Linked DNA regions of Homo sapiens. The protein of the gene in region 1 interacts with the protein of each later gene in a pairwise test. Each region holds a gene or a part of one and is shown in the gene's direction. Other genes may lie near its edges.

Region 1 (7,028 bases):
ACTGCAGAAGTGAGAAAAGAAGCAAGCCTATTGAAACAGGCGGTGTCTAGCATATTTCACTGTCCCTTGGGTTCAGTATTTTCTTACACGGTGTCTCTGTGATTCTCTCCATTTTCTTTCTCTTGCTGTTATCCAGGGTGCTAAGGAGGCACTGGATTTGGGGATCACAGGCCCAGAAGGAATCGAGATCAGCCGTCCAGAGGAGGTGAGAAACACTTCCTGTAGCCTTTGTCAGCGTCTCTCATGTAGATTGACAGAATCTTCCAGGATGGAGGAGACATCAAACATACAAATTAGCCAGGCACAAGGGCTCATGTCTGTAATCCCAACATTTGGGAGGCTGAGGTGGGTGGATGGCTTGAACCCAGGAATTTAAGACCAGCCTGGGCAACATGGTGAAACTCCGTCTCTACTAAAAATACAAAAAAAATTAGCTGGGCATAGTGGTGCATGCCTGTAGTCCCAGCTAACTACTTGGGAGGCTGAGGCAGGAGGATCACCTGAGCCCAGGAGGTTGAGGCTGCAGTGAGCCGTGATGATGCCACTGCAATCCAGCCAAGGTGATAGAGTATATATATATATATATACACACACACACATACATATATATACGCACACACACGCACACACATACGTGTGTGCGTGTGTGTGTGTGTGTATAGCATCATTTTCTCCACGGGTGAAATTTCCATTTGATTCTGATTTCAAGGATCTAGGGGAGACAATGTCAGCACACCTGGGGTTGCTGTGCCCAAAACTGAATCAAGAGACAAAAGACAGACTGAAAAGGCCTTCAGGTGTTAGAAGAAATTTCAAACTATAAACTCTGCCTTTGGGGGATGACATTCCTTTGAGCATCTGAGGAATACTTTGGACCAGGGGTCACCAACCCCCAGGTCATGAACCGGTACAGGACCGCAGAGCAGGAGGTGAGCAGCGGGCCAGCTGAGAGCCCCCTGGGCTCCACCTCCTGTCTGATCAGTGGTGGCCTTAGATTCTCATAGAAGTGTGAAGCCTATTGTGAACTGCACATGCGAGGGATCTAGGTTGCACGCTCCTTATGAGAATCTAACTAATGCCTGATGATCTGAGGTGGAACAGTTTCTTTCTTTATTTTATTTTATTTATTTTGAGATGGAGTCTCGCTCTTGTTGCCCAGGCTGTAGTGCAATGGCGCAATCTCGGCTCACTGCAACCTCTGCATCCCGGGTTCAAGCCATTCTCCTGCCTCAGCCTCCCAAGTAGTTGGAATTACAGGCATGCACCGCCACACCCAGCTAATTTTGTATGTTTAGTAGAGACGGGGTTTCACCATGCTGGTCAGGCTGGTTTCGAACTCCTGACCTCAAGTGATCCACCCACCTCAGCCTCCCAAAGTGCTGGGATTACAGGCGTGAGCCACCGTGCCCAGTCCTGAGGTGGAACAGTTTCATCCTGAAACCATCCCTCCCCATTTCCCACCACCACTGCCCCATCCCTGTCCTGGTCTGTGGAAAAATCGTGTTCCACGAAACCGGTCCCTGGTGCCAAAATGGTTGGGGACTGCCGCTTTGGACCCTTTCCACCAAAAACAGGAGACACATACAAGTCTATGCTCCTCCCCCTCATTACCTGCTGAGATGGTCATTCAAAGCTGTTTTCCGCCTGCCCTCTGGCTTTATCCCTGTGCACAGTTTTGCATGGCATTGACACAAATCCCCTACAGTCCCCCTGCTAAAGAATTCTGCTCTAGAGGGACCACATTAGACGAATAACGCATTCCTGCCCTATTACCCTGTTTACACATTCTCTACTGTTTTAGAAGAGGGGGAGAAACTTCTCATTTCTTCAAAGCCTAAAAATGCAGATGGGTGGTTGGTTATCCATGAGGGATTGAGGGGGAGGCCTCGAGGGACAAGGAGCAGGACACAGGATGTGGTGGCACTGCCATTACCCAGAAACCAAGTTGGCCCACGAGTGGGTCCGCTGAGGAGTGCCCCCTCACTGCCCTGATCAGTGCCTGTGTTTCAGAGCCCTTGAATATAGGTCCTGTTTGGCACTTCTGAATTGGTAGAGAAACACACACCAGATTCGACTGAAACACAGAGGGTATGCCTGTGAGAACAGGAGAGAGCAAGGGGTGGACACACACACTAGACTTTCTTTGTTACTTAATACAAGGGAAAGAGCAAGGCTTTGGCTGTGGTCGTAATACCAATAATTATCACCGCCATTATCTATTGGTTAAAGGTGGGAGGGCCCTGGGTCTATGCCAGGGGAGATGTTGCTCCCCAGGGGAAATTTGACAATATCTAGAGATATTTTTGCTTGTCCCAACCTGGGGGGCAGGGCGGATGCTACAGGCATCTAGCGAGCAGAAGCCAGTGATACTGCTAAACATCCCACAATGCGCAGACACCCCCACCATAAAGAATTACGCAACTCGGCTGGGTGCAGTGGCTCACACCTGTAATCCCAGCACTGGGAGGCTGCGGCAGGAGGATTGCTTGAGCCCAGGAGTTTATGACCAGCCTGGGCAATAAAGGGAGACCCCCTCCATCTCTGCAAAAACTTTTTAAAAATTAGCCAAGCATGGGCCGGGCATGGTGGCTCACACCTGTAATCCCAGCACTTTGGGAGGCCAAGGCAGGCAGATCACGAGGTCAGGAGATCGAGACCATCCTGGCTAACATGGTGAAATCCTGTCTCTACTAAAAATACAAAAAATTAGTCGGGCATGGTGGTGGGCGCCTGTAGTCCCAGCTACGCGGGAGGCTGGGGCAGGAGAATGGTGTGAACCCAGGAGGCGGAGCTTGCAGTGAGCCAAGATTGCGCCACTGCACTCCAGCCTGGGCGACAGAGCAAGACTCCGTCTGGGAAAAAAAAAAAAAATTAGCCAAGCATGGTAGCGCATGCCTGTAGTCCCAGCTGCTCAGGAGTCTGAGGTGGGAGGATCGCTTGAGCCCTAGAGGTGGAGGCTGCAGTGGGCCATGATCATGCCACTGCACTCCAGCCTGGGAGACAGAGTGAGACCCTATCTAAAAAAAAAAAAAAAATATATATATATATATATGTGTGTGTGTGTGTGTGTGTGTGTGTGTGTGTGTATATATATATATATATATATATATATGAATTATACAACTCAAATGCCAATAGTACCATGCGCAGAAACCCTAATCTAGGCTAATTTCCGGAGTCAAATCAGCCACTATTTCTCCTTTGCTGCAGTTCTGAGGTGGCTATGGAGAGAATACACCAGAAAACAAGGAGAGACATGACCTTGGGTTTTTATTTACTTTTGTTTCCTTGCCTTTTAATTAAGCCCCAAGTAGCATCCAGCAAGGGCGTGCCTGGTATTGTAAGACCTAGAATTCTCCCTCACTGTGAGCCAAGGTAGTTGGAGGTTAGTGCCTCTGCCCGGGCTTTGCCCCGAGCCAACCCCTATGGGTGCAGTTGCTCCATGAAGGGGAGAGTATGGTGTGGGTATCCTTGGAGGAGATGGTGAAGTTTGGTTTCCTCCTGTCCTTTGTTTCTAACAGCTGGAAGCTGAAGCCACTCATCGTGTTATCACCATTGCAAACAGGGTAAGTCCCCCGATGTCCACTGTGGGATTAGAAACCAACCTTGGCCAGGCACGGTGCTGATGTCTGTAATCCCAGCACTTTGGGAGGCCGAGGTGCGTGGATCACCTGAGGTTAAGAGTTTGAGACCAGCCTGGCCAACATGGTGAAACCCCATTGCTACTAAAAATACAAAAATTAGCTGGGCGTGGTGGCGTGCACCTGTAATCCCAGCTACTCAGGAGGCTGAGGCAGGAGAATTGCTTGAACCCAGGAGGCGGAGGTTGCAGTGAGCCAAGATCGTGCCAACTGCAATCTGTCCTGGGTGACTGAGCGAGACTCTGTCAAAAAAAAAAAAAAAAAAAGAAAGAAAAGAAAAGAAAGAAAGGAAAGAAAGAAAGAAAGAAAGAAAGAAAGAAAGAAAAGAAAAAAGAAAGAGAAAGAAAGAAAAGAAAAAAGAAAGAGAAAGAAAGAAAGAGAAAGAAAGAAAGAAAGAAAGAAAGAAAGAAAGAAAGAAAGAAAGAAAGAAAGAAAGAAAGAAAGAAAGAAAAGAAAGAAAGAAAGAAAGAAAGAAAACCAACCTCTACGATGCAGCCCCATTCTGCTCTGGGTGCCAGCACCATGTCTTGCCCACAGGAACCCAGAGCTGTTTGCTGACTGAGCGCTGTCATGCCCACCATCCTTGCATTCACCCTTCTCACCACCAGCTTTCCATTCCACCCCGCCGAGCCTGCTGAAGCTCAGTTCATTGCTCACGTGTAAACTCAGTCCAGCTCCTAAACTCTACATCCTCCTAATGTGATAAGCAAAGAGAACAGAATAACATCTGGGGAAACAGAATTTCCCAATTGCACTTTAGAGCTCTGGCCGCTGGACAAGGACATTGTTTCACTGTCATGACAATAGTTATTTATCAATTACTTCCTGGTGGAACTTAACCCAGAATAAGGAAAGACCCAAACAACAAAAAGTCAGTTCCTTGCCTTTTAGCTCAAGCATATGCTCAGAGGAGTTAAGCCATGGACCGTGGTTGCACAGCTTAGTAGAGAAAAAGCTAACCAGTATTACAGTCCAGGTGTCCGTTCGCAAGGTCAGCCTTCTCTTGCCTAGACTCTGAACCCTAACCCCCTTGTATTTTGTTCATCTCCAGGGTGCATTCTGTCTACTGATAAGCAGCCTTCAGACAGCAGGCATCGTAATTTTAGATACAGAATACACGACTAACTCTAGGTCATCACGTTTATGAACAGGAAATTAAAATAGGAAAAAGAGTTCCCCCCTTTTAAATTACAGTCATGGTTGTCAGATGGGAGAAAATGCGAGGTTCAGACTTGACGGTCTTGAACTTCACAGGCTGGGCTTCCCGGTGGGCTCTGGTGCTGGAGGCTGTTCTCTGCCTCCCCGTATCATGCAGTTCCTGCAACCTTGCCCTGACTGCCAGCCCTGCATTCTCCGCTTAAGGACTGTCACCTTGAGGGTGGGGTTGAGTGACGCAGGGGGAGGCGCTGGTGCCAGGGCTGACTTTGCCAGGGTTATTCTGATGCTTGTGAAGTTTATGGGTCAACCCTCCCTACTTCCCACTGTTTCTTGTGTTTAGACTCACTGTCCAATCTACCTGGTCAACGTGTCCAGTATCTCGGCTGGTGACGTTATCGCAGCTGCTAAGATGCAAGGTGAGTCCATAGACTTGGCTGGACAGAGCAGGTCAAGTGGAGGGACTGGAGATGGATGGGGCCCATTAGCCGTGCTCACTCCTGGCCCCGGCTCCTGAAACCAGGACCTGAGCCAGCCCTTCCCTTTCATCTGCCACCGTCTTCCTCAGAGCTGCCCTGTGCTATGCTGGCTTTAGTCTGCTAGAACATGAGCTTTTTCTTCTGCAAATTTGTATGCATAACAGCTTTACGGAAGTGTCTGTCACTTCTCCTGGGTCTGGTAACATTTTCCAAGTTTTAAACCCACTCATTAATTAGTGTCTTTTTGGCCTCATAGATTTTACTAGCAGTTGCCTTGGCAACTAACATAAAATGCTGGACCAGTTTCAGTGGGCATTTCAGGGGCTGTTTGGGAAGTCCCTAAAGAAAGAACAGTGTGTGGGCCCAGCTTCCTTTTAGCCTCCTGGAACCCTGTGTATGAGTCCGAGGGGCACTTGTATGGCTTCTGTTGCGGATCGCCTGGCAGTACCTAAAGGCTTGCAGATGCTTGGAGTCCAGCCCCGCCCCAGGTGCTGGTGAGGGCCTGGCAGCAGGAGAAACAAAGTCACAGTCACAAGCCTGGGGAGACAGATCAGAAGCAAGGGCATCTCAGCCTTCAACTATAATCGATCAGAAGCAAGGGCATCCTGGCCTTCAACTCTATCGCCCTCTAGATCCCGCCACCTGCCTCTCCCCTCACTGAAGCCCCTTGGAGGGTCTCGCCTAGACTGTCGTCCCAGCCTGGTGACTGCTCCCACCTCCTGTCTCCCTGTCCTCCAGCCCTGCTACGGCCCTCCCTGTCCTACCACAACCGTTCTCTTGAAGCTGCTCACAGCAACTGCCTGTCCAGAAAACAGTCTAGACTGCTCTTTAGCGTGGCATTCGTGGCCCTGCATGCCTGTTCACCCACCGTCAAGCTCCATCTGCCAACAGCACCCTGCACACACCAGTGCTCTGGTCATCTGGCCAAACCAGACTCCTCAAAGTGCCGCTTGGTCCTGCTGGGCCTCGGTGCCCATGTCCCTCTGTCCTCCTTGCCTAAGTCAGCAGAATAGGGAGGCTCTCTGGGCTTGAACCCAGCTGTGCTCTTAAAAGCCCTGTGAGCTTGGGCAGGTCCCTTCCTGTCTCTGACCTCAGCTCCTTCACCTGTAAAATGAGAGGCACACACCAGCGATCGCTCAGGTTCGGTGGCTTCCTGGTTATGGTTCTGACCTTTCTTCTTCCAGGGAAGGTTGTGCTGGCGGAGACCACCACTGCACATGCCACGCTGACAGGCTTACACTACTACCACCAGGACTGGTCCCACGCGGCTGCCTATGTCACGGTGCCTCCCCTGAGACTGGACACCAACACCTCAACCTACCTCATGAGCCTGCTGGCCAAGTAAGGCGTTTCAGCAGCACATTGCAGGGATGTGTACATCTTTAGGAAGACGTCATAGAGGGCCCAGGAAACAAATCTGAGCTAGGTTTGATTTCATTGTGCCCATAGGATCATTGTGCTTTTCTTACCTTCTCTGAGCCCATCAGATAATTGCCATCCTATTGGGATTTTATGACCGCTTGATATGGAGTGAGATCTTCTGAAGTATAAGAGTGAAGAGCACATATAGAACTGTGAACCGTGGTTATTCGGAATTTCAAAGGACATTGATCTCTTACTCTAAAGCCCAGTGGGGAGCTGCAGAACGTGGCCTGTGACTTATCCTAGAATGTAGGGGTCCTTTCTGTTTCTTTTGTTCACCTCTCCCTCTTCTTGTTGGCTCCCGTGTGCCCCTTGTCTGTACATCCCTCCT
Region 2 (6,209 bases), on another chromosome or scaffold:
TCCAAAGTCTGTGCCCTCAGCTCTGATGGGCTGTGTTCCTCCAAGTCCCCACCTGAGAGCTAGTCCTGCTGCGGGGTCTCCTGGGCTGTGAGGAGGGGGCTGAGGGCTTTTTGTCTGGTTCCTGATTAACCAAGCTGTACCCTCCCAGGTATTGCCTAAGGCTGGTGCACTGAACTCCAACGATGCCTTTGTTCTGAAAACCCCCTCAGCCGCCTACCTGTGGGTGGGTACAGGAGCCAGCGAGGCAGAGAAGACGGGGGCCCAGGAGCTGCTCAGGGTGCTGCGGGCCCAACCTGTGCAGGTGGCAGAAGGCAGCGAGCCAGGTAGGAGCCGGGGTGGGGGGCCTGCTGCTGTCCGGATGCAGCTATTAAGTTTCCCCCTTCTTTCCTTCAGCTTGGGGGCTCTAAATCCTCCCCTCCATCCCACCTGAGGGCCTGTCCCCTAATGTATGTTAAATAAAAGCAGTTGCATTAAAATGAGGGCTGTGGCCAGAGAGAGGGAGGTCTCCAGGAGCTAAAGAAAGGAGAGCCTAGCCTGGGCGTGGTGGTTCATGCCTGTAATCCCAGCACTTTGGGAGGCTAAGGCGGGCGGATCACCTGAGGTCGGGAGTTCAAGACTAGCCTGACCAACATGGAGAAACCCCATCTCTACTAAAATACAAAATTAGCCGGGCATGGTGGCACATGCCTGTATAATCCCAGCTACTCGGGAGGCTGAGGCAGGAGAATCACTTCAACCCGAGAGTTGGAGGTTGCGGTGAGCTGAGATCACGCTATTGCACTCCAGCCTGGGCAACAGGAGTAAAACTCTGTCTCAAAAAGAAGAAAGAAAGAAAGAAAGGAGAGCCCAGTGTGGGAAGGAGCAGTTGGTCTGTGGAAGGAGGCGGTCCCTCGCTAGGAAGCCTTGAAAGGTGGTAGGCAGGGCTGATAGCGTCAGAGGAGCAGTGGTCTCCTTGCATCTCTAGACTCTCCATGGACAGAAATGCCACCAGCCTGCTCTGTTTCCAGAATGTGGGCCGGGCAGCTCTTCCTTCTGCCAGCCTGCAGTCTTTATACTGTTACTTTGAGTTCATTCCCACCTGCTTGATGCTTAACAGAAATGGTGAAGAGTGACTTGGTCTAAAGCAGCTCTGTCCAGCAGAACCTTCTATGCAGATGGACATGTTCTGTATCTGCCGAGTCCAATTTGACAGCCATTAGTCACATGTGGCTGTTGAGCACTTGAAATGCGACCAGTGGGAATTAGTGGGAATGAAGAACTGAACTTTTAGTCGAATTTAATTTTAATGAATTTAAATTTAAATGGCTGCACATGGACAGAGCAGGTATAGTGGAAAGAGTATAGGTGTTAGAATCAGACAAGATTTGTATCCTGGTCTTAACACTTACCATCTGTGTGACCTTGAGTGAGTTGCTTAACCTCTCCGAGCCACAACTGCCTCATTAGCTGAGTGGAGCTAATGGTCCTCATCCCGCAATGCTGTCGTCAGCCTCAAGCCAATAGTGGTCCTGGCTGTGTGACTACTGCCAAGTCTGCCCTCTCTGGGCCTCTATTTCGTCACCTTCCAATTCCCTCAGGCCTCTTCCCTCTGGATCTCCTGGGATTTTTAGGATGGAGGGAGGAGAGGGAGAGCAGTTGGTTGCGCTTGGGCAGGGCTGGTCCCAGGGTCCGATGAGATGGGAGAGAGGGGTGATGGCGTCCCTTGGCAACTGGCGTGGCCTCCCCTCACAGATGGCTTCTGGGAGGCCCTGGGCGGGAAGGCTGCCTACCGCACATCCCCACGGCTGAAGGACAAGAAGATGGATGCCCATCCTCCTCGCCTCTTTGCCTGCTCCAACAAGATTGGACGTTTTGTGGTGAGCCCCTGCGGAGGTCACACCTCTGCTTTCCCCTCGGGAGGCGAGTTCCACAGGACTGGCCGGCAGCAGGGGCAGGAGAAACAGTTCTGATGGTGTGGCACAGAGGAAGGGGCCCCCTGCCAGCTGCAGCCAGCTGTGCCACTCCCTCAGGGGGCAGATAAAGGAAGGCCACCCAGGGGAGGGAAGACATCTCACTGATGCTCTTTCGTTCCTTCCCAGATCGAAGAGGTTCCTGGTGAGCTCATGCAGGAAGACCTGGCAACGGATGACGTCATGCTTCTGGACACCTGGGACCAGGTGGGTGAAGGACAGGTGAAGGCTCTCTGTGCCAGAGGGAGTGGGAGAAACTAGACTTCCAGTTCTATGATCAGTTGCTAGAAGGACCTAAAGGGGGCAGTGCCAGGTGTTGCCAGAAAAGTCTCTAAGGGTACTGGAAGTCACTTCTTCTTTCTGAGCTTCCATTTCCTCATCTGTAAACTGGGAGTGGCGGTACCTCCCTTGCAGATACACTCACCTTGAAAGCTGCAAAACGCCCTATAAAGGCAAATCACATGACCTTCATCATTCTCTCCCAGACCTTGCAGGAGCGTGAACTCTTCCTTTAAATCTGTTGGCAGAGGAAGTTGAACTTAGCAGCATCTTGTTTGCAGGCATAAACTGTCCAGTGTCACCTAGAGGCTCTAGAGGGCTCCTGCTTCTGGTTTGAGGGCTCTGGGCTCTGTCTCCACTTCATCTCCTAGAGAAGGCCATTATGTAGGACTTGGCAGGGGAAGATGCCATTCACTTACTCAACCAATATTAATTGGGCACTGCTTTGTGCCAGGTGCTTTATGTTTGAGATGCTGGGATAGAGCAATGAATAAAGTAGGCATTTTCCTGCTCTCCCAGGGCTTACGTTCTCACAGGGGTGTCAGGTCAGTCACCTTTCCTATCAAGGTGGCTTCTCCCAGAGTCCTCAGAGTTACGGAGCAGCTGGCCACGAAGGCATAAGACTCTACACTACCCACAGGGATGCTCGGAATCCCCAGTTGGAAGATCGGGACCAAAAATGATTGCAGCTTGAGCCATTCAGCAGTTGTCATTGATTGATCCATTGGCTACTTAATCTGTTTGTTCATCTGTTAGGGATTCAGTCAGCCAACATTTATTCAGCACCATGGTCTTGCAGGCAAAATGCTGAGTGCTGAGAATCCTATGATGAGCAAAATAGAATGCCTGCCTTCGAGGGGCTTCCACTTTAGTTGGGAACACATTTATAAATAAGTAAGAGAGGGCCAGACATGTTGGCTCACACTTGTAAACCCAGCACTTTGAGAGGCTGAGGTGGGCAGATCACTTGAGGTCAGGAGTTCAAGACCAGCCTGGCCAACATGGTGAAACCCCATCTCTACTAAAAATACAAAACAATTAGCCAGGCTTGGTGGTGGGTGCTTATAATCCCACCTACTTGGGAGGTCGAGGCAGAAGAATCACTTGAACCCAGGAGGCGGAGGTTGCAGTGAGCTGAGATCATGCCACTGCACTCCAGCCTGGGTGACAGAGTGAGACTCCGTCTCAAAAAAAAGTGAGAAAAATGAAGTCTGACATTTTATTGTCTAATGCCATTTTATCAATGATAGGTGCTCTTTGAAGTAATATTTTAGATATGCATAAAAATAGATGATACATAAAAATCAGCTAAATAATGTGTAATAGAACTTGTAACAAGACTCAAAATGGTGATAGTGGTGGGTGAGTTATTTTTATTCCAAGCCTTAGGCCCATTTTGACAAAGATGCACACAGACCGGCACATAGTAGACTCTCGGTGCATATTTGTTGGATAAATAAATGGGTGAGAATATGTTTGGCCACTCATTTGTTGAACGAGTGAATGCTGTTCAAGAGATAACTCATGGACCTTTAGAGAAGAATCTCAAACTCAATGCCTGATGGTACCTGGTTGGCAATGTTAGCGAATGAAGCAGGCTGGGCTGGGGAGACGTGAAGGAGCAGTGGAGTCTGAGGCAAACTAGAACTGCTCATCTCAAAGGGGCAGCTCCTGCGCAGCTTGACTCAAGTGAGGTTTGAAGGCCCAGGCTGCTAGATCCTCCAATTTTTAAAGAGAAGTTGGAAATCTAGATTTTTATGTCATAACGGTTTAAAAAGACATTGTTGGCTAACACAAGGTGGTGGGTGAGCAAACAAAACATGTTTGTAGGTTGCCAGTTTTCAACCTCTGTTCCAAATCCTTCCAGTCTTAGTTCATGGGCTCTGTTAGAAAGGGGAGGGCTTTGTCTGGTCTGATACCTGGCCCCTCCCCAGTCTTCCTCCAGCCGTGAATTTGATCAGCACTCCTCATGTACCTTTCCTGTTGCATCTCACCTCCAGGTCTTTGTCTGGGTTGGAAAGGATTCTCAAGAAGAAGAAAAGACAGAAGCCTTGACTTCTGGTGAGGACCCGAGTGCCTGGGGGCGGGGGGAGGGGTCCGTTGCTTGTGGGGTGCTGGGAGTGGCTCCTGTACAGGTCTGGGAATGAGCATCTTTCCAGGGGACTGATGGACAAGATAGGGTGGGGACTTCCTCCTCTGTGGGCCAGCCCCTCATAAATCCTGCCTGGGATAGTGAAGAACACATCAGTTCCTTCAGAAACCCTGAGGCTTCTCAAAGAAGGCTCTCCTCTGTTCCAGGAGAAGGAAGGGACAGATGAGAAGTCACTTCAAGTTCCCAGAATACTCAGAAGCTGAACTTGTCAAGGTTTAGATGTGGCAAAGCAGGCCAGGCATGGTGACTCATGCATGTAATCCCAGCATTTTGGGAGGCCAAGGCAGGAGGATCACTTGAGCCCAGGAGTTTGAAAGCAGCCCGGGCAACATAGTGAAACCTCATCTCTAGAAAAAATACAAAAAAATTAGCCAGGCGTGTTGGTGTACACCCGTGGTCCCAGCTACTCAGGAGGTTGAGGTCAGAGGATTGCTTGAGCCCAGGAGTTCACGGCTGCTGTGAGCCATGATCGCACCACTATACTGTAGCCTGGGTGACAGAATGAGATGGTGTCTCAAAATGAAAAAAAAAAAGAAAAAGATGTTGCAAAGCAGATTCTTGGCAGCTGAATAGATCTGATTTGTGAGCTGGGAACCCAAAAGTTGGTTCCCATATCTTCCAGTAGGGGACTGCAAGGGAAAGTAATAAGCTTTATGAAGCAGGAGATTAAGCCGTAGCCCTGTTCCTTCCTGTGTTCCTGAGCAGGGTGGTGGAGAGCCCACGTGGGTATCATGCCTTTAAAGGAGGATGGTGCCCAGGGCAGGGGGTGGGCAGTAGGGACAGTAGGACCATAGACCCTCTTCTTTGTCAACTCCTGTCCTGAGTCACCCTCTCCCTGGTGTGGGAGGCACTAAGAATTCCTGGGGTTTCCTTTTCTTGCACGTGTGTCTGCAGCTAAGCGGTACATCGAGACGGACCCAGCCAATCGGGATCGGCGGACGCCCATCACCGTGGTGAAGCAAGGCTTTGAGCCTCCCTCCTTTGTGGGCTGGTTCCTTGGCTGGGATGATGATTACTGGTCTGTGGACCCCTTGGACAGGGCCATGGCTGAGCTGGCTGCCTGAGGAGGGGCAGGGCCCACCCATGTCACCGGTCAGTGCCTTTTGGAACTGTCCTTCCCTCAAAGAGGCCTTAGAGCGAGCAGAGCAGCTCTGCTATGAGTGTGTGTGTGTGTGTGTGTTGTTTCTTTTTTTTTTTTTTACAGTATCCAAAAATAGCCCTGCAAAAATTCAGAGTCCTTGCAAAATTGTCTAAAATGTCAGTGTTTGGGAAATTAAATCCAATAAAAACATTTTGAAGTGTGTACTCTAGTGTGGCTCGTTTCCTTGTGCCCATCTGACAGTGAGAGCCGGCGTCTTCTCTGCCTGTGTCCCTGGTAATTCTGAGAATGGCCAGAGAGGTGCCTAGCATTTGCCTGTAAACTAGTAGAAAGGCTACATCCACCCTGTGCGTGAATCCTGGTGCCCTGAGAGGCGATGCCACAGTGAGTTGAGAGGTGTGTAGATTGTCCTGGGGGATACCTATGCTAAAGGAAATAAGGAGGGGCCGGGTACGGTGGCTCACACATGTAATCCCGACACTTTGGGAGACCGAGGCAGGCAGATCACCTGAGATCAGGAGTTCGAGACCAGCCTGGCCAACATGGTGAAAGCCTGCCTCTACTAAAAATAAAAAATTAGCCAGGCGTGGTGGCACATGCCTGTAATCCCACCTACTCGGGAGGCTGAGACAGGAGAATCTCTTGAACCCAGGAGGCGGATGTTGCAGTGAGCTGAGATTGCACCATTGCACTCCAGCCTGGGTGACAGAGCGAGATTCTGTCTCAAAAG
Region 3 (6,881 bases), on another chromosome or scaffold:
AAAGGGATCTTTCTCACAGTGTTTTTTGGAGAAAACATTAAACATTTCTGAGTATGGAAGCTCAGTGCAAACAAAGACTTGAGAATTTTTAGCCTATTTATGCTGACAAAATACCCAGCATGTATCTACAACTTTCAAAACATTGTTGTGTCTCACGACGATGCCTGTCCCAGTCAAGGAGCCAGCATTTGTATTTGCCTGAGGAAAAGGTTGTGATGGGGGTGAGGGTGGATTTCGCTTGTAAGGCTGCTCATATTTCACTGTGTTTATTTTTTTAATTTGATGACACCTTCAAGAGATAAAGGGCGACAATTTATTACACCAGATATTTGACAAATTGGGACAGTATTTTATTTTATTTTAATTGTTAGAGACAGGGTCTCACTCATTTGCATAGGCTGGAGTGCAGTGGCGCCATCAAAGAGCACTGCAGCCTCAACCTCCTGGGCTCAAGCGACCCTCCCATCTCAGCCTCCCTGGTATCTGGGACTACAGGTGTGCACCACCATGGCTGGCTATCCTTATATATAAATATATACATATATTTTCAGAGACAGGGTCTTGCTCTGTCACCCAGGCTGGAGTGCAGTGGTGCAAACATGGCTCACTGCAGCCTCCACCTCCTGGACTTGAACAATCCTCTTGCCTCAGCCCCCAAGTAGCTGGGACTACAGGTGCACGCCACCACCCCCAGCTAATTTTTAATTTTTTGTAGAGATGGGGTTTCACCATGTTGGTCAGACTGGTCTCAAACTCCTGAGCTCAGGCAATCTGCCTGCTTTGGCTTCCCAAAGTGTTGGGATTACAGGTTTGAGCCACTGCACCTGGCCAATTTTAAATAAATGAGCATTTACTCACATAGAATCCTTGAATTATAAACCTGATGCCAACTTAGAGATCATCTGAGGCCCACCAATATTGTTTTGGGGAGTTTTGAGAAAAACACCATGCCCAGGCCTGACTTCAGATAAACTGAATCAGAATCTCAAGGGATGGGACCAAGGGGAATTTTCCACTTTTAAAGCTCCACAAGTGATTCCAACATGCAGCCAGGATCAAGAAACAGCTCTAGTCTCATTATTTCATTTTACCAATAAAGATATAGAAGTTCAAACAGATGAAGTGACCTGCCTAAGATCACACTGCCAGTAAGTGGTGTCTCACAACCAACTCCTCTGACTGCTAACCCAATGTTCTTTCCACTATGTTCTTTTTTTGTTTCTTCTTATAGAAAGAGCTTAGGGTTTTACTGAACATTAAAGTTATGCGATTTACAATTGAAAGAGAAGAGCTAGAGTCCAGGAAGTATTGGTGGGGCATCTTCAGAGGGCTCAACTCAGTTGTGGGTTCTCTGAAGACTACTATGCCCAGGACATAGCTCCTGCCAAGTCTCATTGATGGCAGTCAAAAGACATTTTGCTAAAGGCAATGACTAACACTGTATGCAGTGTTCATTAGTCTTGTGTTGGGTCACTTGTTCACAAATTAGTTTCACCTATGGTAGTAAACATTCATTGACAAATGTTCTCACTTTCAGGAATTAATTACATTAAAGCAAACAATAGTGGGGCAGATCGGTGCTTCTTAATATTTGAATTAGGGTAGGGGTTAGGGCAAGGAGTCACAGGTCCCATTGGAGAACTAGTGAAAACTACAAACTTCCCCACAAAAATACACATACATAAATGTTGCATGTAATTTCTGAGGATTCACCGACACCTCTCCCATCCTGTCTAAACTCATACATAAACTCCAGATTAAAATCTCCTGGACTAGATGATTTTGAAGCTCTCTTTCAGTGTTTTTCTCAAAGTGTGGTCCATGGACCACAGAATCAGAATCACTTGGGGTGTTTGTTAAAGAAGTGATTAATAAGACTGCCACAGACCTACTGTTTCAGAATCTCTGGGGAATGAGGTACAGGAATCTGTATGTTAAAAAAAAAAAACCCAAAACCAGATGGTTCTTTTGGAAACTAACACTTGAGAATCAGTGCTTTATTCCAACTCAAGATTTTTAAATGCTTTCATCTGTTGAATATTTTAGGTTTTGTCTGTTCATCTATCAAGTATAGCAAACAGTATGCTTAGTATGAACTCATTACAGAATATTTGTGTGTATGTACATAGGAAAAATATCTGGAAGTATAGATGTGGGTGTGTGTATATATGTGTGTAAATATATATAATAATGTTAATAGTAGGAATACAGATGATCTCTATTTTTCCGCTTTATCCTTCTGTTTTATTTCTCTCATTTTTTTCTTCCTGTGTTTAAAAAAGATGCTTCTTGTTTCTGAGCTCAATTCCCCCACCTGAGAACAGGGTGCTGTAACTAGGTGAATTTCAAGATCATGTCTTGTTCCGATGGTCCGTGACTCCATACTACCCCCTAGGTTCCCTCGTCCATCTCACAGCATGAACTGCATAGGTAACAACAGTGTTTGGAGAATAAGCATGTATTATTTTTGTATGTATTACGTTTGAGATGCCTAGCAACCGTTTTTGTGCCCGCAAAATTTTTCTCTTCTTTGTCAAGGAGCCAAAACGGAAATAGTCTACTATCTACGGCCCTCAAAAGTTCCTCCTCTCTCCTTAGCCTTAGAAAATACCGTCCGCCATAGGCATGGGCAAAGACCTCATGGCTAAAACACCAAAAGCAATCGCAACAAAAGTCAAAATTGACAAATGGGATCTAATTAAAAGAACTTCTGCACAGCAAAAGAAATTAGCATTAGCGTGAACAGGCAACCTGCAGAATGGGAGAAAATTTTTGCAATCTACCCATCTGACAAAGGTCTAATATCCAGAATCTACAAGGACCTTAAACAAATTTACAAGAAAAAAACAACCCCATCAAAAAGTGGGCAAAGGATATGACCAGACACTTCTCAAAAAAAGACATTTATGCAGCAACAAACATGAAAAAAAGCTCATTATCACTGATCATTAGAGAAAGGCAAATCAAAACCACAATGAGATACCATCTCACGCCAGTCAGAATGGTGATTATTAAAAAATCAGGAAACAATAGATGCTGGCGAGGCTGAGGAAAAATAGGAATGCTTTTACACTGTTGGTGGGAGTGTAAATTAGTTCAACTATTGTGGCAGACAGTGTGGCGATTCCTCAAAAATCTAGAACCAGAAATACCATTTGACGCATGCACACGTATGTTTATTGCAGCACTATTTACAATAGCAAAGACTTGGAACCAACCCAAATGCCCATCAATGATAGACTAGATAAAGAAAACGTGGCACATATATGCCATGGAATACTATGCAGCCATAAAAAAATGAGATCATGTCCTTTGCAGGGACATGGATGAAGCTGGAAGCCATCATCCTTAGCAAACTAACACAGGAACAGAAAACAAAACACTGCATGTTCTCACTCATAAGTGGGAGTTGAACAATGAGAACACATGGACACAGGGAGGGGAACAACACACACGGGGGCCTGTCAAGGGGTGGGGGCCAAGGGGAGGGAGAGCATTAGGAGAAATACCTAATGCATGTGGGGCTTAAAACCTAGATGACGGGTTGATAGGTGCAGTAAACCACCATGGCACATGTATACCTATGTAACAAAGCTGCACATTCTGCACATGTATCCCAGAACTTAAAGTAAAATTAAAAAAAAAAAAAAAAAAGAAAGAAAAAGAAAAAGAAAATGCCGTCCGCGCATATCTCTCAGGAGCATAGGAAGGGCTGTGAACCAAAAAGCCAGGGCGTGGTCGCCCCGCCCACCGGCCGCTACATCACCACCCCTCTCGCCGCTTTCAAGCGCGGAGATTGGCTGTAAGCAAGAAAGAGCCCCGCCCCTAGTCTTATGACTCGCACTGAAGCGCCGATTCCTGGCTTTTGCAAGGCTGTGGTCGGTGGTCATCAGTGCTCTTGACCCAGGTCCAGCGAGCCTTTTCCCTGGTGTTGCAGCTGTTGTTGTACCGCCGCCGTCGCCGCCGTCGCCGCCTGCTCTGCGGGGTCATGGTGTGCTTCCGCCTCTTCCCGGTTCCGGGCTCAGGGCTCGTTCTGGTCTGCCTAGTCCTGGGTGAGTTGTCGGGCCCTCCCGATTAGTCTGTCCGCCTGGGCCCGGGGCACCAGTTCAAAGCTACAACCTGAAAGACTGGTCCGAGGGGGAGGGGGTTGAGAGGCTCAGCAGCTAACACTGGGCGGCGGCGGTTGGCCCGGGGAGGCAAGCGGTGACCTAGAGAAGGCCTGACCGACGGATGGCGGGGAAGAAGGGCCCAGGAGAGTAAGAAGGGGCCGGTAACGGGGGGTGGACGCCGAGGGAGTAGGCTGGGAGGAGTGAAGCGTGGAGAGGGTCAGCGTGGAAAGAGTAACTTGGGGAAAACACTGAGGAGTGAGCGTAGGAGGGTGGTACATGCAGATTTTGGGCGCCAGAGACAATTAGGAGAGTCTTGGTTTGCTGAGATCAGGGAAGAGTTTTGAAGATGGTGGAAAAACTATGGGGTGAGATAGGAAATTAAGAGAGAAGACCATGCCTGCCTGGAGTAGCTTGGGAGAAGTGTGTGGGTGGGGGACAGATGGGACAGATAGGACAGTAGAGCCTGAGGGGCAGGGGCAGTGACAGGGTTGGGCATTTTGAAGGTTGGAATTTGAGACTGTGAAGAAAGGATGATTCAAGAGATTAGGAGTGATGCTGGGTTTGAGTTTGGTAGTCATAGTTTTAAGGGCGAAGGAACCTAAGGTAGCTGGGGCAATTTCCAGGAAAGAAAACTTGGACCCAACCTCTGGAGACTAAGGGGTTCAGGGGGAACTTTGATGGGGAGTGCACATCTGACTTGGAGGTATTGAGGATGTCGATTTTCTCCCAGTTTTGCTACTTCCTCCCAGCCAGACGCTGACAAAAAAATCCCCAGACGTTTCAGTTAGGAGGGCCTCCCAGATGTGAGGTTTTGGGGGTGGAGTATTTGAGTTTGGTAGACTACCTCTTTGCCTTCAGAGTTTCTTCTTTTCTTTCTTCCCCATCACACAGCTAGCCTATTACCTCATATTTTGGGGGTGCAGGGAGCAGGTAGACAAACTTGCTAAGGATTGGGTTGTTACCAGGGCCTAAGAATGGCTGGATGGGGCCGGGCGTGGTGGCTCATGCCTGTAATCCCAGCACTTTGGGAGGCCGAGGTGGGTGTATCACCTGAGGTCAGGAATTCAAGACCAGCCTGGCCAACATGGTGAAACCCCGTCTCTACTAAAAATACAAAAATTAGCCGGGCGTCGTGGCACATGCCTGTAATCCCAGCTGCTTGGGCGGCTGAGGCAGGAGAATCGCTTGAACCCAGAAGGCGGAGGTTGCAGTGAGCCAAGATTGCGCCATTGCACTCCAGCCTGGGCGACAAGAGTGAAACTCTGTCTCAAAAAATAAAAATAAATAAATCAATAAATAAATGGCTGGGTGAATGTTCGCTGATTGTGTTGTGCCCTAATAGGCAGTGGGTCGCTAACAACTTTAATGCCTAAAAGTGAACTTTGACTAAAGTGTCTCTTCCTGACTTTGATTCATGCTGTGCTTGTTGCTACCCACCTGCTCTTGCTATTTGTGACTTAATAAAATAACATAAAGAACAGACCCAGATGGGAGTGGGGAAGAAATAGACATATTAGGGGTCTGAGAAAGCAGTGAGAGGTATACATTTTGTAATTCACATTTCAGTAGAATGAAATCAACACCCTGGAATAGTGATTCTCAACCAGGGGACATTTGGCAACATCTGGAGACATTTTTGGTTGTAACAACTGGGGGATTGCTTTTAGCATCTAGTGGGTAGAGGCCAAGGATGCTGCTAAACATCCTAACTAAGCACAGGGCAGCCCCTGACAACAAAGAATCATCTCCCTGAAAATGTCAATGGTGCCAACATTGATAAATCCTGCTCGAAAACCATAGTATTGGAAGGGTTCTTGATTATCTAATTCAGTGACTCTCGAGGACCTTTTCATGCGTCTGTGAAATCAAAACTTCGGAATAAGGTTAAGAAGGTATTTGTCCTTTTCTGCTGGGCACAGTGGCTCACGCCTGTAATCCCAGCACTTTGGGAGGCTGAGGCGGGCGGATCACCTGAGATCAGGAGTTCAAGACCAGCCTGACCAACATGGTGAAACCCAGTCTCTACTAAAAATAGAAAAATTAGCCGGTGTCGTGGCACATGCCTGTAATCCCAGCTACTTGGGAGGCCGAGGCAGGAGAATCGCTTGAACCCAGGAGGCGGAGGTTGCGGTGAGCCAAGATTGCGCCACTGCATTCCAGCCTGGGCAACATGAGCGAAACTCTGTCTCAAAAAAAAAAAAAAAAAAAGAAGTTATTTGTCCTTTGTCCTTTTCACTCTCATCCTCTCACCAGTGTACAGCAGAGTTTTCCAGTGGCTACGTAACATGTGATGACCTCACCACTCTGATGTTCTTATATTTTATTCATTTCTCAGTTTTAATTTCTAATACTGTAAATACCAATACATATGACTCACATAAACCTCTGTGAAGTCCTCAGTGGATAAGAAAGTAAAGGGGTCCTGACACCAAAACTTTGGGAATCCCTGATGTAGTCCAACTGTTCACAGCGCGCAGGAAACTCTTCTGTAGCACTTCTGAAAGGCGGCCTTGAGGCAGGCTTTGCTTGAATACTTAATTGGAAGCCTTAACTGTACCTTGGAGCACTTACTGAGGGCCAACTGACCCTAAGAAAGGATTGTTTACAATGGAAAGTACCTTATCAGTGACTAGAACACATCTGACCAAGGCATCTGTTAATCAGTAGTTCCCTGCCAATTGAATCTGTGCACAAATACAACACTGTTATTGTTTTGGGAAAGTGAAAAAAATAATAGTTGTCCTACTTGTTGGCTTTCATGTCATTAAATTT
Region 4 (7,028 bases), on another chromosome or scaffold:
CATGGCAAAACCCCATCTCTACTAAAGATACAAAAACGATGGGCCAGATGCAATGGTTCACGCCTGTAATCGCCGTAACACTTTGGGAGGACGAGGTGGGCAGATCACCTGAGGTCAGGAGTTCGAGACCAGCCTGGCCAACATGGCGAAACCCCGTCTCTACTAAAAATACAAAAATTAGCCGGGCATGGTGGCGCACCCGTAATCCCAGCTACTTGGGAGGCCGAGGCAGGAGAATCGCTTGAACTCAGGAGGCGGAGTTTGCAGTGAGCCGAGATGGCGCCACTGCACTCCAGCCTGGGCAACAAGAGCGAGACTCCATCTCAAAAAAAAAGTGTCTATTGCCTTGTATCTCCAGCACTGACCGAGGCCTGTAAGCAGTATGGCAGGGAAACCCTCGCCTACCTGGCCTCCCTGGAGGAAGAGGGAAGCCTTGAGAATGCCGACAGCACAGCCATGAGGAACTGCCTGAGCAAGATCAAGGCCATCGGCGAGGTACTTGGAGTAGTATCATTGAGGAGCATTGTTATTCTTCTGGGTGTGCGTGCTGGTGAATGGCCAGGGAATCGGTGATGTTCTGAGCTAGTTCTTTCTGCACTTAGAACTTGATTCTAGAAAGAGATTGTTAAAATTGGAAAATCTGGCCGGGTGCAGTGATTTATGCGTGTAATCCCAGCACTTTGGGAGGCCGAGTCAGGAGGATCACTTGAGGCTAGACGGGATGGCTCACGCCTGTAATCCCAGCACTTTGGGAGGCTGAGGTGGGCAGATCACTTGAGGTCAAGAGCTAGAGACCAGCCTGGCCAACAGGGTGAAACCCTGTCTCTACTAAAAATACAAAAATCAACCCAGCATAGTGGTGCATGCCTATAATCCCAGGTACTGGGAGGTGGAGTCAAGAGAATTGCTTGAACCCAGGAGGTGGAGGTTGCAGTGCACCGAGATCATGCCATTGCACTCCAGCCTGGGCATAAGAGTGAGATCTATCTCGAAAAAAAAAAGGATCACTTGATCCCAGAAGTTTGAGACAGGCCTAGGCAACAAAATGAGACCCTGTCTCTTTAAAAATTAAAAAAAAAAAAATTTAAAAAGGAAAAACCTCCTGAAGGACTTTCCAGCTATATTTAATTCACTGGCTGTTAGCTGAGAATCTACTATGTTGTCATCATTACACTAGGCAATATCAAAGAAGTATAGGCAGCTCCCCTGTCTCTGAGGATTTTTATCTAGGTGGGCAGGTAATACCCAAAATGGAAATAACACTGTGTTCATTCATTTACTAAAGATGTAGTGCCGAGCATGGTGGCTCACACCTGTAATCCCTGCACTTTGGGAGGCCGAGGCAGGAGGATCACTTGAGGCCAGGAGTTCAATATCAGCCTAGGCAACATAGTGAGACCCTGTCTCTACAAAATAAAATTTTTTTTTTAATTAGACAGGTGTGATGTCACGCACCTGTAGTCCCAGCTACTCGGGAGGCTGAGGCAGGAGGATCGCTTGAGCCCAGGATTTGGAGGCCACAGTGAGCTATGATTGTGCCACTGCACTCCAGCCTAGGCAACAGAGTGAGACCCTGCCTCTGCTATAAATAAATATGTCCTGTATACCAGAAATTGGGTTAAGTATATATAGGGACAGAGAAGACATGGACTCTATGGAAAAGAAAAATAAGAAAACCATTTCTATGCAGTACAGTTTTTTTTCATTTTTTCCCCAGTGTTATGAATTGGAATATATTGGTTAAGATACAAGGATAGGGCCAGGCACGGTGGCTCACGCCTGTAATCCCAACATTTTGGGAGGCCGAGGCAGGTGGATCACCTGAGGTCAGGAGTTCTAGACCAGCCTGGCCAACATGGCAAAACCCCATCTCTACTAAAAGTACAAAAAATTAGCCAGGCGTGATGGTAGGCGCCTGTAATCCCAGCTACTTAGGAGGCTGAGGCAGGAGAATCACTTGAACCTGGGAGGCTGAGGTTGCAGTGAGCTAAGATCGTGCCTTTGCACTCCAACCTGGGCAACAGGAGCGAAACTCCACTCAAAAAATAAATAAAAAATAAAAGCCATGAGGATAGACTGTCTAATTGGAGTTCCAGAAGAAGATAATAAAAAGACCACATCCAGCCAAGGTGGGTGGATCAATTGAGGCCAGGAATTTGAGACCAGCCTGGGCAACTTAGTGGCGCCCTGTCTCTACAACAAATTTAAAAATTGGCCGGGTGTGATGGTGAGCACTTTTGGTCCCAGCTACTCAGGAGGCTGAGGCAGGAGGATCACCTAAGCCTGGGAGCTCAAGACTGCAGTGAACCGTGTACTCTGCAGTGAATTGCAGAGTGTACTCTGCAGAGTGGTTCACCTGCAGTGAACCACTGTACTCCAGCCTGGGTGAGAGAGTAAGACCCTGTCTCTAAAAAGAAAAAATAAAAAGATCAGGGCCAGGTGTGGTGGCTCACGCCTGTAATCCCAGCACTTTGGGAGGCTGAGGTGGGTGGATCACTTGAGGCCAGGAGTTTGAGACCAGCCTGGCCAATATAGTGAAACTCCATCTCTATTAAAAATACAAAATTAGCCAGTTGTGGTGGCTAATTTTGTAATCCCAGCACATACCTGTAATCCCAGCTACTTGAGAGGCTGAGGCAGGATAATCCTTTGAGCCTGGGAGGCGGAGGCTGCAGTGAGCCGAGATTGCACCACTGCACTCCAGCCTGGGCGACAGAGTGAGACACTGCCTCAAAAAAAAAAAAAAAAAAAAAAAAAATTATCATCTACATCTTTGCCTCCCTAAATAATAGAGTTAGTTTCACATGATATAGACTACAGGTAAATGGAGTCCTACTGTATATATTCTTCTACAACTGGCTTTTTCACTCCACATTCTGTGAGATTAATCCAAGAAGATAAATTCATTTTCACTGCTCTCTCATTATCTATTGTGTGAATATCGCTTAATTCATCCGTCTGTTCTCTTGGTGATGGACACTTGGGTTATTTCCAGTTTGGGTTGTTATTAATTTGCCCCTATGATCATATATGCACACATGTCAGTTTCTCTAGAGTATATACATAGAATCAGAATTACTAGGTATTAGGATGAATCTCACACATAGAATGTTGAGTGAAAAATCAAGTCATGGAAAAATATATACAGTAGGATTCCTTTTATATAAAGACTCAAACATTCAAACTTAATAGGGATGCATCTATGTGGAATTAAAAAATAATAATAATAAGACAGGCCAGGCATAGTGGCACATGTCTGAAAATCCCAGCACTTTGGGAGGCCGAAGCGGGAGGATCACTTGAGGCCAGGAGTTTGATACAGCCTGGGCTACAAAGCAAGACTCTGACTCTACAAAAAAGTTTAAAAGTTAGCAGAGCCTAGTGGTGTGTGCCCGTTGTCCCAGCTACTCAGGAGGCTGAGGCAGGGAGGATCACTTGAGCCCAGGAGTGGGAGGCTGCAGTGAGCTATGATCGCACCACTGCACTCTAGCCTGGGCAACAGGCTTTTATGTTTTGTCTTTAAAAAATAAAAATAAAATAAGACACAACAACCACGCTCTTGAATTCTGTGTCTCTTGGGGTAGAAGGCAGGGAGTAAGGGAGATAGAATCAGGGCACATACAAGTTCAAATAGGATTCCAAAGGTATTGATGTTTCTTACAGCATTCCTTAAGTTTTAAGTTGGGTGGTGGATAACATGCGTCTTTATTCTTATCCTTTGAACCATTCATATATATTTTATACCTTAGTATGTATAACACATCATGTTTTAAAAATCATAGGCTTTGCTGTTTGTCAGACCTTAGTTCAAATCCCTGCCCTGCCATTTGTTACCATAACTGTGGTCAAGACGTTCTACCTCTGATCCCTGGCTTCCTATCTGCACAGTAGGAATAATACCCGCCTCATATGATCACTGTGGAAGCAAAGTTAAGTCAGGGTCAAAGTGGAAGATATCATCTGTATTTGAAAAAGTTGTAGGCCAGGTATAGTAATTCAATCCCAGCACATTGGGAAGCCAAGACAGGAGGATCACTTGAGCCCAGGAATTCAAGACCAGCCTGGGCAACATAGTGAGACCCCATCTCTATTAAAAAAAAAAAAAAAACAATTATCCGGGCTTGGTGGTGCACCTCTGTACTCCCAGATACTCTGGTGGTAGAGGTGGGAGAATTGCTTGAGCATGGAAGGTCGAGGCTGCAGTGAGCTATGATCATGCCACTGCACTCCATCTCTGGTGACAGGGCAAGACTGTGTCTCAAAAAAATAAAAAATTAGGGCCAGGTGTGGTGGCTTACACCTGTAATCCCAGCACTTTGGGAGGCTGAGGCAGGAGGATTACCTGAGGTCAGGAGTTTGAGACCAGCCTGGGCAAAATAGTGAAACCCATCTCTACTAAAAATATAAAAATTAGCTGGGCATGGTGGTGCAAACCTGCAATCCCAGCTACTTGGGAGGCTGAGGCAGGATAATCCCTTGAGCCCGGGAGGCGGAGGCTGCAGTGAGCCGAGATTGTGCCACTGTACTCCAGCCTGGGCAACAGATTGAGACTCTGTCTCAAAAAAAAAAAAAAAAGAAAAGAAAAGAAAGAAAGCAAAAGAAAAAGAAAAATTGTAAAAAAATACCTCCTGTGTAGCTAGTACAATTGACACTGCACAACTAAGGGACTGGGGTCTTAGTGGTGGCGGAATGGCCTTGCAGGGGGAGGCAGCGATGGCATTCTGGAAGGAGGTGGATCCTGAGTGAGGAGGAGCATGAGGTTCCAGAGTTTGTGTCACAGAGAGGACAAGATGGGGTCTGCAAAAGACCCCCCCACAACCCCTGTGGCTTGCAGAAGGTGTTTGCTGGGTGGCCTCCTGCCTTGCCATCTTGTAAGGGTTACAGATGGCAGAGGAGAAGAGACAGGAGGCCCCAAGGTCAGTTCAGCCTTTGTGATGTGTTCACAGGAGCTCCTGCCCAGGGGACTGGACATCAAGCAGGAGGAGCTGGGGGACCTGGTGGACAAGGAGATGGCGGCCACTTCAGCTGCTATTGAAACTGCCACGGCCAGAATAGAGGTAGGAGGTTCCTGCAGGATCTCCTGAAACGATGCCTTTGCAGCTGCCCTTCTGCAACACTGCTCATTAAACATGTCACAGTCGTTCATTAAGGCCATGGCAACCCCCTAAGACAGAAACCAGAATTTGCCAGGCACAGTGGCTCATGCCTGTAACCCCAGCACCTTGGGAGGATCACTTGAGTCCAGGAGTTTGAGACCAGCCTGGACATCATAGCAAGACCCCATCTCTACAAAAGATAAAATAATTAGCTGGGCATGGTGGTGCATGCTTATAGTCCCAGCTACTCCAGAGGCTGCAGGAGGATCACTTGAGCCCAGGAATTGGAGGCTACAGTGAGCCATGATTGCACCACTGCACTCTAGCCTGGGTGAGAGAGTGAGACCCTGTCTGTAAAAATGTTTTTAAATTATAAAAAAAAAAAAGAGAGACCAAAATCTGAACTCGCTAGTTTTTCTGAGTGATAGAAAATGAGAAGGTCCTCATGAGAGAAGGTCCTCATGAGAGAAGGTGATTAGTTTCCTCAAGAATCAGATACTTTGGTGTCAGAACATCCTGGGTTCTGGCCAGGCGTGGTGGCTCACGCCTGTATTCCCAGCACTTTGGGAGGCCGAGGCAGGCAGATCATGAGGTCAGGAGTTTGAGACCAGCCTGGACAACATGGTGAAACCTGGTCTCTACTAAACATACAAAAATTAGCTGGGCGTGGTGGCGCGTGCCTGTAATCCCAGCCACTCAGAAGGCTGAGGCAGAAGAATCACTTGAACCCAGGAGGCGGAGGTTGCAGTGAGCCGAGATCGTACCGCTCACTCCAGCCTGGGTGACAGAGTGAGACTCCATCTCAAAACAAAACAAAATGACACGGATCACAGAGCCAGCCCACTGCAGCTGCACTCCCCCTGAATAGGTTAGAGTCTGGATTCTTTTCTGACTCTCTCAAGAATGTGGGCAGGGACTTGGGGACTTCCAGATTCAGGTTTCCCAGCTACCACACGATGTTGGACTGAAAGTATAGTAAGACATTAGTGGATCCTTAATATTCAAGGCACATTTAGAAACCATGCTTCTTTTTCACAGGAGATGCTCAGCAAATCCCGAGCAGGAGACACAGGAGTCAAATTGGAGGTGAATGAAAGGTCGGTCTGAGCGGCATGGTGGGACCTAGGGGAGCAGGATCTGTCTTCCTGACATTGGTCTATACTTTGCATACTTATTAGGGAATTAGAGGAGAGCAGTAGCAGCCACGGGGAAGGGCTGAGTTGATGTAATCATCAATAACAGTATTAATGATGACAGCAATATTGCTGTTTCACTATAGAAAAGAAACCCGCGCGGTAGCTCCCGCCTGTAATCCCAGCACTTTGGGAGGCTGAGGAGGGAGGATCACCTGAGGTCGGGAGTTCGAGACCAGCCTGCCCAATGTGGTGAAAAGTCATCTTTACTAAAAATACAAAAATTAGCCAGGCGTGGTGGTGCATGCATGTAATCCCAGCTACTTTGGAGGCTGAGGCAGGAGAATCACTTGAACCTGGGAGGTGGAGGTTGCAGTGAGCCAAGATCGTGCCTCTGCACTCTAGCCTGGGCGACAGAGCAAGACTCTGTCTCAAAAAAGAAGAAAAGAAGTCCTAGGAATCACAATTTCACTATTCCTTACGATGGAGACCCACAATTAGATCTCTCTCACTCCCCAGCCTCTCCTTCGGTGCCTCCCCGCAGAATGTTCCAGCAACCTCAGCACCCTTCTTACCTCCCTTTCCCATTCCAAGCTTGCCTTTGGCTAGGAGTGGGGAAGAGAACCGTCGTGTTCATTGATCTTGGATCTTGATCTCAGTGTATCCTCGACTTGTTTGTTTGGCAGGATCCTTGGTTGCTGTACCAGCCTCATGCAAGCTATTCAGGTGCTCATCGTGGCCTCTAAGGACCTCCAGAGAGAGATTGTGGAGAGCGGCAGGGTGAGCGTGGGTGTGGGCC

Evidence for each region.
Region 2: the proteins of DPYSL5 (region 1) and GSN interact in binary tests that used the Homo sapiens proteins (3 or more experiments, as listed by UniProt).
Region 3: the proteins of DPYSL5 (region 1) and LAMP2 interact in binary tests that used the Homo sapiens proteins (3 or more experiments, as listed by UniProt).
Region 4: the proteins of DPYSL5 (region 1) and HIP1 interact in binary tests that used the Homo sapiens proteins (3 or more experiments, as listed by UniProt).

Annotation. Positions count from the first base shown.
Region 1 is NC_000002.12:26,928,119-26,935,146, forward strand, and holds part of DPYSL5 (dihydropyrimidinase-related protein 5), read left to right. Parts: intron 1-136; coding exon 137-205; intron 206-3,521; coding exon 3,522-3,566; intron 3,567-5,139; coding exon 5,140-5,215; intron 5,216-6,459; coding exon 6,460-6,616; intron 6,617-7,028. UniProt on the Homo sapiens protein: Involved in the negative regulation of dendrite outgrowth.
Region 2 is NC_000009.12:121,327,160-121,333,368, forward strand, and holds the end of GSN (gelsolin), read left to right. Parts: intron 1-148; coding exon 149-323; intron 324-1,731; coding exon 1,732-1,856; intron 1,857-2,078; coding exon 2,079-2,156; intron 2,157-4,228; coding exon 4,229-4,289; intron 4,290-5,274; coding exon 5,275-5,444; 3' UTR 5,445-5,683; downstream 5,684-6,209. UniProt on the Homo sapiens protein: Calcium-regulated, actin-modulating protein that binds to the plus (or barbed) ends of actin monomers or filaments, preventing monomer exchange (end-blocking or capping).
Region 3 is NC_000023.11:120,466,277-120,473,157, reverse strand, and holds the start of LAMP2 (lysosome-associated membrane glycoprotein 2 isoform A precursor), read left to right. Parts: upstream 1-3,861; 5' UTR 3,862-3,988; coding exon 3,989-4,052; intron 4,053-6,881. UniProt on the Homo sapiens protein: Lysosomal membrane glycoprotein which plays an important role in lysosome biogenesis, lysosomal pH regulation and autophagy.
Region 4 is NC_000007.14:75,546,920-75,553,947, reverse strand, and holds part of HIP1 (huntingtin-interacting protein 1), read left to right. Parts: intron 1-358; coding exon 359-495; intron 496-4,946; coding exon 4,947-5,057; intron 5,058-6,134; coding exon 6,135-6,193; intron 6,194-6,915; coding exon 6,916-7,009; intron 7,010-7,028. UniProt on the Homo sapiens protein: Plays a role in clathrin-mediated endocytosis and trafficking. Involved in regulating AMPA receptor trafficking in the central nervous system in an NMDA-dependent manner. Regulates presynaptic nerve terminal activity.